Linked DNA regions of Homo sapiens. The protein of the gene in region 2 purifies or fractionates together with the protein of the main gene of each other region. This does not show direct contact. Each region holds a gene or a part of one and is shown on either strand. Other genes may lie near its edges.

The links.
Region 1: the proteins of CTTNBP2NL (region 2) and PDCD10 purify together in Homo sapiens (affinity purification with mass spectrometry; 3 studies listed by BioGRID and IntAct, with this or other methods). This does not show direct contact.
Region 3: the proteins of CTTNBP2NL (region 2) and PPP2CA purify together in Homo sapiens (affinity purification with mass spectrometry; 4 studies listed by BioGRID and IntAct, with this or other methods). This does not show direct contact.

The regions. Positions count from the first base shown.
Region 1 is NC_000003.12:167,728,274-167,731,929, reverse strand, and holds part of PDCD10 (programmed cell death protein 10), read left to right. Parts: intron 1-3,656. UniProt on the Homo sapiens protein: Promotes cell proliferation. Modulates apoptotic pathways. Increases mitogen-activated protein kinase activity and STK26 activity. Important for cell migration, and for normal structure and assembly of the Golgi complex.
Region 2 is NC_000001.11:112,402,577-112,406,232, reverse strand, and holds part of CTTNBP2NL (CTTNBP2 N-terminal-like protein), read right to left. Parts: intron 1-3,656. UniProt on the Homo sapiens protein: Regulates lamellipodial actin dynamics in a CTTN-dependent manner. Associates with core striatin-interacting phosphatase and kinase (STRIPAK) complex to form CTTNBP2NL-STRIPAK complexes.
Region 3 is NC_000005.10:134,205,488-134,209,143, forward strand, and holds part of PPP2CA (serine/threonine-protein phosphatase 2A catalytic subunit alpha isoform), read right to left. Parts: intron 645-3,656; coding exon 435-644; intron 1-434. UniProt on the Homo sapiens protein: Catalytic subunit of protein phosphatase 2A (PP2A), a serine/threonine phosphatase involved in the regulation of a wide variety of enzymes, signal transduction pathways, and cellular events.

The DNA.
Region 1 (3,656 bases), on a different chromosome or scaffold from region 2:
CTTGGACTGTTCCCCTCACGCCTACCTAAATGTGGCCACCTGGTAGTCAGTTTTCACGTCTCAATTTAAATATCGTTCGTCAGGGGAGCCTTGCCCGCCTTCCCAAAATCAGAATAGGTTTCCGCCATGTATTCACCATACTCTGTACTCCTTTGTGGCATCATCATAATAGAAACTTAATTATTTCTGTATTTATTTGACAAATACTGTCTCCTCACTGGACTATAAGCTCCCTGAGCAGGGCCCTCTCATTTGTCATGTTTTACCCCACTACTTACGCAGTACCTGGCACATTGTAAGGGTTCAGTAAATATTTGCTGAATGAATGAAGGAGTGTATTCATGCACAGTGCTTCCAGCACTTCTCTGGGGACAGAAATAGAGAAATGAATAAAGCGGATATGCTTTCTGGATTGAAGTATATAAGAACTTTCAAATGAGCCATAATGCTTAGGCAATTTAGGTTATATGTAAAGGAGTCATTGACAGAATTTTAATATAAATTGTGGAAAAATGTTTGTTCTTTTTGGAGGTCTCTGAAATCAGGATTAATTTTCTAAGTGGAAATGATAAAGGAATCACTTTCATTTGCCGCAGAATTGCTGTGTAACACAGCATTTTAGAGACTTATCACTGTCCTGCTTTTTGCAAGCGATATTCATTATAACAAAATATAGACATGGAAGAAACTTCTAATGGACTCTTCTTCCCTAATGTTGTCTCGTTTTGCCCTAAAAACCTTTATTTCCTCTAGGTAGTAGTATTAATACTGTTTTATAGCTGAAGACATCAAGAAAATAAGTAAATTTACTTATTAAACTAAAAAAAGTTTAATTAAATTGCTAGAGTTTCCAGAACGTTGGTACTGGAACCATGGTTAGAATCTGGATCTATCTCCGTATTCTAGAATCCATAATTTTTTCTTTTTCTTTGCTTTTTTGTTTTGTTTCTTGCTTTTTAACCTTGCTATCTTCCTATGAATTATACCTTTAATATCACTTGATTTAGACAAGGTGGCTTTGTAAAATTGAGTAGTTTTTGTTTCAAAGGAACTTATATTTTGGGTTTCCTGAAAATTTTTCTAATACTTTTCTAATCTTATTTGCTTTATAGCTGGAGACTTAAGCATAAAAAGATTATTTTTAAAACATACAAACTGAATTTTAGGGATAAATTGTGTTAGGTTTTGGTCTTGGAAACAAGTTCTGCAGTCATTTGTAGTACCACGGTATGGCATAGAGTAAGGTCAACAGCCCTGAGTTTCTGTAGCCTTGTATGCCTTCATGGATTTACCAGTTTACTCTTCCACAAGATCTTGTCAAAAAGAGATTGCTGATAATTTGGCTTTAAAATTTGGTAATACTATCCATTTTATTATTAAAAACAAGTCTTTGCTAAATCCTAAACTTACTTTTTAAAAAGTCAGTGTTGATGTTACTTGAATCTTGGATAAAATTTTCATATTTACCTAGCATAACCAGTATGTGGAGGATAAAACTGAAATACTGCTTTTTATATGTTGTTGGATAATTAATATCATTATGATAGGTGTTACTAAGAATTTTAAGCCACTTACATGATAAGTAATTTTTTCCATAATATAAACTGTAAAAGTGATTTAGAAGTTAAATGTCATTGTTATCTATGTTATTGCATTTGAAATATTATAGTAAGCTGCAGTGTTAGAGGGTTATGCTTTAGGGACACACACACACACACAATGCAAAAAATGAAAGCACATTTATTATAGCAATTAGAAATAATTTATGTGCTGAAAGATAAACACTGTGGTTTGATGGTTCATTTTTGTCTGTATGAAGATGGTAATTTCAATTTTGTCATTTAAGCTACAAAATTTAAATGTGTCTTAAGTGTATTATATTACACTTATTTTTCAAGCTCACCCTTACATTTTTGGTTATGTATAACCATTTTTAAAATCACCCAAAAGTGATTTTCTGCTGTTCAGTTTCATTCTTATACAGTTGATAGAATCCAGGTTGCCTATAGGGTTAAAAGAAAAAGAAAAGAATTTTATTAACAAGCTTATGAACTATTGGGTAACAGCAGTGGAACATGTTAAGTGGTAGTCACTAACATATACTTAGGCTGGTCCCTTGGGAATAAGTTTACCAGAGGTTAGTCTAAATAATGACTTTTTGATTCATTTACTTATTGAATGCATATTACTTGTGAAATTGCCTTAAACCTTCTTTGGAATGAACTGGAACCTAATATAATAGCTAGCATTTATTGAGTATTAAGTAACTAAGTGCCAAGTCTCATGCTAATAAGCATTTTACAGGATCTCTTATAATCCTTACGACAACCCTTCGAGGTAGAGGCACTATTATCTCCAGTTTTTAAATGAGGAAACTAAAGTACAGAGAGGTTAAGGAACTTGCCTACGGTTGCAGGAAAAATTGCTTGGAATTAGGATTTGAATCCAGGCTGGCTGACTCAAGAGACCATGTTTTTCATCATTATAGTAAAAATGATGTTAGTGATTGAACTGCATTGGAGAGAGAAATTAGCATTAAGAGTTGTAGTTACAGAGCAGTTATGTCTTAAATGCTAAGGTCAGTGTGGCAGGCAGAAATTACTTAATATTCAAACTTTTTAAAAAACCTATTAGGAAATACACGTTGTAGACTAACAACTTCAACACAGCCAGTTTTTTTCTAGCATTGGAGTAGATTTCTTTTGAGTACCAGGTGAAGTGTTTGACTTGTTATGCAGAGACCATATTGAAAAAAGAAATATGTATATTATAATACAAGAGTCACAATCAGTGTGGCAAGCTACTCTTTGTGAGAGCTCACTGTGGCTCTCAGTCTGGTGTGGGGAGTGGCAGATCCACGTTTCTTATCTGTCTCATTCTGGGACTTTTGCATAGGGAATGGAATTATCACATACTGCAGTAGTTATTTTTAGTGAAGTTATTTTTTTGTTTGTTTTCTTCAAACAAATGTTCACCATGTCTGTTGAACTTGCATAGGGTAGGAGTATCATGTGAAGCAGGTACGCTCCCTGGAGTGTTAATGCCAAGTGGCAGTGTGACATGTCACTGTATTTCTTTACTGTCTCTCTTCCCTGCCAAGACTACATACCTTCAAGGGTATGTGCTGTTTGACTTTTCATCACCATATCTCCAACTAACACTGTTGCTGACTTAGACTGACTATGCAGAATACTGTGTTGGATACTAGGAAATAGAGAAATGGATACAACTTCTCTTTAGGGAGTTTATACTTCAGTAGATACAAGGGGAAAGGGTTGAAAGACCATTGTATGGACATTTAGTCTTTCTAATATACTAAGTACTTCCATGTGCATCAGTTCATTTTACAATTTTAGGTTAGAGCTGATAGAAAAATAAATGATTGTTTCTCTAACTGCCATCTGGTCCCTGGCACTGAAATGGGTCTCCCTGTCTTATTCAGTCATTCTCTCTTACTTCAAGATAGACTGGAATTCAACTGAGATTGAAGTTATGGAATGACAAAACCCTAAGATGTTACACACCGGCTGCCTCCTCAGACTTATATAAGGTTACTACAACAGAAGCCAGTTGGGAATGTTAAATGAGTCAGACCTGGCCTCTAGACAGCAACTGCACCCTATACGAGTTTAGATTGTTGCTAGGCTTTTTTTCAT
Region 2 (3,656 bases):
GTGAATACAGTTAAATAGAACTAGGTCTAGCACACGTTTTTTTTTTTTTGAGACGGAGTCTCACTTTGTCACCCAGGCTGGAGTGCAATGGCGCGATCTCGGCTCACTGCAACCTCCGCCTCCCAGGTTCAAGCAATTCTCCTGCCTCAGCCTCCTAAGTAGCTGGGATTACAGGTGCCCACCACCACGCCCAGCTAATTTTTCTATTTTTAGTAGAGACAGGGTTTCACCATGTTGGTCAGGCTGGTCTCGAACCCCTGACCTCGTGATCCACCTGCCTCGGCCTCCCAAAGTGCTGGGATTACAGGCGTGAGCCACTGCGCCCGGCCGCATACATGTCTTTTTAAGATCCAGTTTAATTCGCTTTCTGGGACAACATAATAGGTATCAGGTTTTTGTTTTGTTTAGTTCTAAGACTCATGCAACTCTGCTATATCTCTCTGTGAGTGTGAATGTGTGAATGTGTAAGTGTGTGTGTGTACACATCTCTTTCTCTGTCTCTCATATATGATGTCAGCAAGATTTATATGTATATTGAAGAAAAGAAGGAAGTAGCCTTATGCCCATAAACAAACATTCAGATATCTCTTCCCTCAAATGAGAACATTAGTGCAAAGCTATTAAAAACAGGTCTGGGCTGGGTGCAGCGGCTCACGCATGTAATCCCAGCACTTTGGAATGCCGAGGCAGGCAGATCACCTGAGATAAAGAGTTCAAGACCAGCCTGGCCAACATGGTGAAACCCCATCTCTACTAAAAATACAAAAATTAGCCGGGCATGGTGGCGCACACCTGTGATCCCAGCTTCTCAGGTGGCTGAGGAAAGAGAATCGCTTGAACCCAGGAGGTGGAGGTTGCAGTGAGCTGAGATTGCACCACTGCACTACAGCCTGGGAGACAGAGCAAGACTCTATCTCAAAACAAGAACAAAAGGTCTGTCTACCTGGATATCTGTTTACACCATCTCAGGTATTCTCATCTGAGACAAGGCCAAACTAGAACTACATTAGTTAAGCTACTGGAATGGATGTTAATGAAAATGAATAACAACTTTTATATTAATAAATTTTTTATCATTGAACATTTTAAAAAAGATATGTCTTTTAACATCAGAATATTATTACCAGGAAACTGAAACATTACATTTTTTTTGTTTGTTTTTTTTGAGATGGAGTTTTGCTCTTGTTGCCCAGCCTGGAGTGCAATGGCGCAACCTCGGCTCACCGCAACCTCGGCCTCACCGCAACCTCCGCCTCCTGGTTCAAGAGATTCCCCTGCCTCAGACTCCCAAGTAGCTGGGATTACAGGCTTGTGCCACCATGCCTGGCTAATTTTGTATTTTTAGTAGAGACGGGGTTCCTCCATTTTGGTCAAGCTGGTCTGGCACTCCTGACCTCAAGTGACCCGCCCACCTCGGCCTCCCAAAGTGCTGGAATTACAGGCGTGAGCCACTGCACCCGGCTGAATCATTTCTATATAATTTGTTAGATGGCTTTATTTCATTTAAATGAAATTGTAACATGATTTCAATCAAATATGTATCTGACCGTCTCTATTGTCTATCTGTCCATCAGTCCCCTAAATTTTTGCTTTTCTGAAATAATGCCACCATAACTTGTAAAATACCACAAGGGAACAATAACATGTAGATTGATTATTTTCAGTAAGATGATTCATGGGCCACAATTCTAGAGGCAGCCTGGAATGCAAACCCTTCAAATGCTAATGTAGGATGATGACGTCATTGATTCCACTAAGATTCCACACTGGGGAGAAACTCCAGAGTATGGTATGAAGGATTAACCATCAAACAGTTAAGGAATCTGTGTTTTAGCGATGCCCATAACCTGACTTTATCTGAACTGCAAAAAAAACTTCAAATAATCCTCTAGCAGAAATAAAACTCGTGATGTTGTTTTGTCTTCTAAGACAGATAACTGACTTAAAAAAAATTTAACAATTGAGTATCAGTTGAATATTTCCAACAACAAGCCTGGCAATTGTTGTTCTATGGTTCTTCAGGGACAGTAATTCTGCTGGGAGACAGTATGTTATAGTGGAAAGCACATGGATTTTGGAATCTGACAGAGCTGAGTTTGCATCCTGGCTCTGCCACTTGCTCTTTCATCCATTTAACCTTTGAACTTCAGTTTTTTAGCTATAAAATGGACATAACAATACATACTGTAACAGGAGGCTGCATGGTTTAAATGAGTTAGTGACTGGTCAGCTTCTCATTTCTCATCCTTAAAGAGCATACTTTTTGGTTTCATCTGCAAGGATAATGAAGTTTTCCTTTTCCAATGGGTCATCATTGTCTATCATTCACGTGTCTAATTTACAAACCAAAACAAGTTTACTTCTGACTTCTGGCAGGTTGATCTGCACCAAAAAGAAAGAGATGGCCTGGCCAGTTCCTGGGAAAGTCAGTTTAGAGACATGTTCAAGCCAATTGTATCTGCACAATACTTGGGAAAAGAAAAGGCCAGCCTTCTGCTTAGATTAGTTTTTTGTGCCTTTAGCATACAGGTAAACGCATACCTTTGCTTCCACTGAATTTTAACAGGTTTTAATCAAGTCACAACTTTAACTTGTGATGACTGAGAAATGGGTTTCCTGAAAATATCACAGCTATTTTTTTACATTAAATTAAATGCATAATGGATATGTATCTACATTCGTAATTCAAGAGCAGTTATCACATTCTATTACATCAATTCATCTGTTTACATATCTGTCTTCTGTCTCACAAGACTCTGAACTCATCTGAACAACTACTCTGTCTATTCAACTTGATCACACTTAGCACTAGCAGTGTCTGGTTCAGATACTGAAAAAATGCTGGTTGGAAAGAAATGTACAGCACTTTCAATCTCAGCCAACACAACTGGACTTTACCTTTTAGAAAATGGGAAGCCACTCAACATTTTTAACCTGGTGAAAATCATAACAAAAGCATAGTTTTAGGAAAGTTAATGCTTACAGTACAGGGCTGACTTGACTGAAGAGAAAATGGAAACAGAAAGAGTAGTCGGGAAAAAAATTTAACAGCATAGGTATGAGGCAAAAATGTATGAACTAGGATGGTAGCAATAAGAATGGAAGAGACTGACAAAAGAGACATTAAAAAGAATTTACTTAGTTATTTAAGAATTTACTTACAGTAAATGACGGATTTTCATTTAGGGAGGTAAGAGGGGAAATAATCCCAGATCAGCTGAGGTTTTGAGACTGGGTGACTAGAATGATGATACCATTAGCAAAAACAGGGATGTTAGAAATGGAACTGGGTTTACTGGGGAAATGATGACTGTGATACGAGACAGGCTGAATGAGAAGTTATTTGACCCCCAAGAGGAACGTGTTAAGAGTCTGTTAGTGTGGTGATGGCTAAGGGTTTAGAAGTGAAGAAGTCTTTGGGGATAGAGCCTTTTAAGGAAATTTATTCTGTGCCCTCAATTTAAGGACAAGAGGCAACAAGATGAAACTGATATATAGGGCTAGACCAGATCATTGTTATACCCTCAAACATTAAGTCAGTTAAGAACTAGATTGGTTCTGTTGTTACTTCTGTAGCACCTGCTGTAACAGAAAGGACTATTTAGCAGAAACCAAGTAATGAGGGCCTCCCTGGAGCCCCCATTCTCCAACAAAAA
Region 3 (3,656 bases), on a different chromosome or scaffold from region 2:
TCTCCTGCCTCAGGCTCCAGAGTAGCTGGGATTACAGGCACCCGCCACCACCCCCGGCTAGTTTTTTGTACTTTTAGTAGAGATGGGGCTTCACCATGTTCTCCAGGCTGGTCTCGAACTCCTGACCTCAGGTGATCTGCCTACCTCAGCGTCCCAAAGTGCTGGGATTACAGGCATAAGCCATCACGCCCAGCCTATTTTTTCAAACAATCTGACTGAGGCATTCATTCTCCTCCTTTTGTTTTGATTCTGTACCATCCCCTTACTCAGAACGCAGACGCCTATGATTTTTAAGTCCAAAACCTGAACATATGCATTCCTAAATGTGGAATTTTGTTTTAACATTCAGATAGAGAAAATAACTGGGGGAAAAAAAACTTTCAAGAGGACTGTCTTACCCATTTCAACATGCCCCAACATAAAATTGAAATTACCTTAAGAGCTACAAGCAGTGTAACTGTTTCAACTGAATAATATCCTCTGTCAACATAATCTCCCATAAACAAGTAATTTGTATCTGGTGATTTGCCACCAATTCTAAACAGTTCCATGAGATCATGAAATTGCCCATGCACATCTCCACAGACAGTAACTGGACATCGAACCTCTTGCACGTTGGATTCTTTTGTCAGGATTTCTTTAGCCTACAGATGGGAGACAAAAATAAGGCAATACATTTGGCATTAAACAATATTAACAAAGATTTGTTTACTTACACTTAATGTAGCTTAAGGGGCAGACTCAGTCTAAGATAAAATTGCAGGCATTTATGAACCCATTAAAATAAGTGAGATATGATTATAATCCATTAGCTATCTCACCCTGTTACCTAGGGAAAAAATATGCATTCCTATCATCAATACCAGGAGTTTTTTAAAAACCTATCAAATAGCCATCTAATTAAATACTAATTGTTAGCTGTCACATAAAACCAATGAAAATCGAACAGGACATTCAGGTATCTACTTCCTTACCTTCAGAGTTCTAACTACAATGCAGCACTCAAAGATTCTTTTTTTTTCTTTTTTTGAGACAGGGTCTCATTTTGTCACCCAGGCTGGAGTGCAGTAGTATGATCATAGCTCACTGTAGCCTGGATCTTCTTGGCTCAGGAATCTTCCCACCTCAGTAGTGGGGACCACAGGCACACGCCACCATGGCTGGCTAATTTTCACAAACTTTTTTGTAGAGACGGGGTCTCACGTGATCCTCCACCCTCATCCTCCCAAGGGCTGGGATTACATGCATAAGCCACCTCACCTCAGCCCTGTTTGACTTTTTAAAAACATGTTTTTGGCCAAGCACTGTGGCTCATACCTGTGAGAAAATCATTTGCTCAACCATCTGTACCAGCCCCATGCTAGCAACTGGACATATAGTGGTGAACAAGATGGCTCATTCCCACTACCGTAGAGGGGAGAAGGACCACAAACAAGTAACCAAGCCAAAAGTACACTGTGTTAAGTGTCACAAAGGAAAGGGAGAGGGAAACTGGGAGAGACCACTTTACATAAGATACCAAAACAAATTACCAGAGAATTGTTGCTAATGAGCCATGACAACCACAGATGACAAGGACTGGGTTCAAAGCATTGGTATGCAATCTTAGCTGCACATTAAAAATCCCAATGCCCAGCCAGGCGCGGTGGCTCGCACCTGTAATCCCAGCACTTTGGGAGGCCAAGGCGGGCCGATCACTTGAGGTCAGGAGTTTGAGGCCAGCCTGGCCATCATGGCGAAACCCCATCTCCACTAAAAATAAAAAAAACTAGCTAGGCATGGTGGTGCATGACTGTAGTACCAGCTACTTGGGAGGCTGAGGCAGGAGAATTGCTTAAACTTGGGAGGTGGAGGTTGCCGTGAGCCAAGATCGCATCACTGCACTCCAGCCTGGGTGACAGACCAAGACTCTGTCTCAAAACAAAAACAAAAACACCAATGCCCATTCCTTCCCCTAATAAAGTCAGAATTTTGGAGACTGGAATCAAGCCATCAATAATTTTTAAGCACCCCCACCCCTCCTTTTCCCAGTGTGCAACCAAGTTTAAGAACCACTGCACTTTGGGACGCTAAGGCGGGTGGATGGCTTGACCCCAGGAGTTCCAGACCAGCCTGGAGTACAGTGGCATGATCTCGGCTCACTATAACCTCCACCTCCCAGGTTCAAACGATCCTCCTGCCTCAGTCTCCATGAACAATTGCGACCACAGGTGTGCACCACTATGCCTATTTTGCACTTTTTGTAGAGGTGAGGTTTCACCATGTTGTCCAGGCTGGCCTCAAACTCCTGAGCTTAAATGATTTGCCCACCTCTGCCTCCCAAAGTGCTGAATTACAGGCGTTAGCCACTATACTGGCCTGAGATACCTATTAAGAAATATGTACAACCCATTATTATCAAATCCTACTTCATTCTGAAATTTTTCTCTGCAGGGTAATTCCAACTTCCCATTTACTATCACTAAAAAACACAAATTCACTAGGCTTATTCCATTACCAAGTCTGTCTGGCATTAATACCACATCTAGTGTTTTTTTAACACCTATCATATATTAATGAAAATAACTAAATGAAATAAGTCCTACACTGAGAAGAAACTTGCAAAAGTTATTCAGAAGTTTTAAAAGGGCATGACATAAGCAAACAGATGGTTATATACCATGTAAATCTTGCCATGATGTAATTTTCACATTTAAAGCTATCAGAAGTTAAATGTTAATATACTTCTGTGAATATCTGTTTATCTGCAAAGCTATTCTCTGTATTAATAATAAAAAGTTGACTTTCAGGACTGCCTGAAGTTCCTTACTACAACTGACTCAAATTTTCTATTCAAATCATGAAGGAAAATTAAGTCTAAATGCTATTTGTTGCTTTTATTTCAATTTAGGCAAATCACACCGATAAACAGTGTTATCTATTTTTTAAACTATACAAATTAGTAATACATTCTTGTAAAAAATTTCGGCACAGATAAAATGAAATGTTCCCTTTGAGCACCCTACACAATCCCACCCCCTTTGGGCAAAGTTACCAATAAAATTTTGATGTACAGATGCTCCTCAATTTGTAACACAGCTGCATCCAGATAATCCTATCGTAAATATAATCGAGTCAACAGTGTGTTTTCAGCTTACAATGTTTTCAAGTTATGATATATTTATCTGGATGTAGTCCCATCATAAACTGAGGGGTATATTGAATAGCTATCATTTTCACACCATCATTAAGTCGAAAAATTGGGGAGTGTCTGTATATCCTTTAAAACTTTGTTTACAAAGTTTACACACATACTGTATGTCTACAGAAACAATAGTTTTCCTTTGCATTTTTAAACTAGAAACAATATTGTTCAGCAGCCTGCTTTTCTAACAATATATAATAATACATAACATTTATTGAGACAGCTGGTTATTTTCTCATAGTGGAGGCAGAGTATTCCCCTGACCAATTACAATGGCAGAGGGGTGTGAAACTACAGCAATATATATCCTCGTATTTTCTCCTCTGTATACATATGCAGGCACATTTCCTGAGAGAAGATACTATGAAGTGAACTTAACTAGTGTATCTAGTAGTTTGGTTTTTAAATGTTGACATTATCAAATTGTCCTTTAAAATAAAAAGAACAGTTAACTCTTAAGTGAAATTTCTAA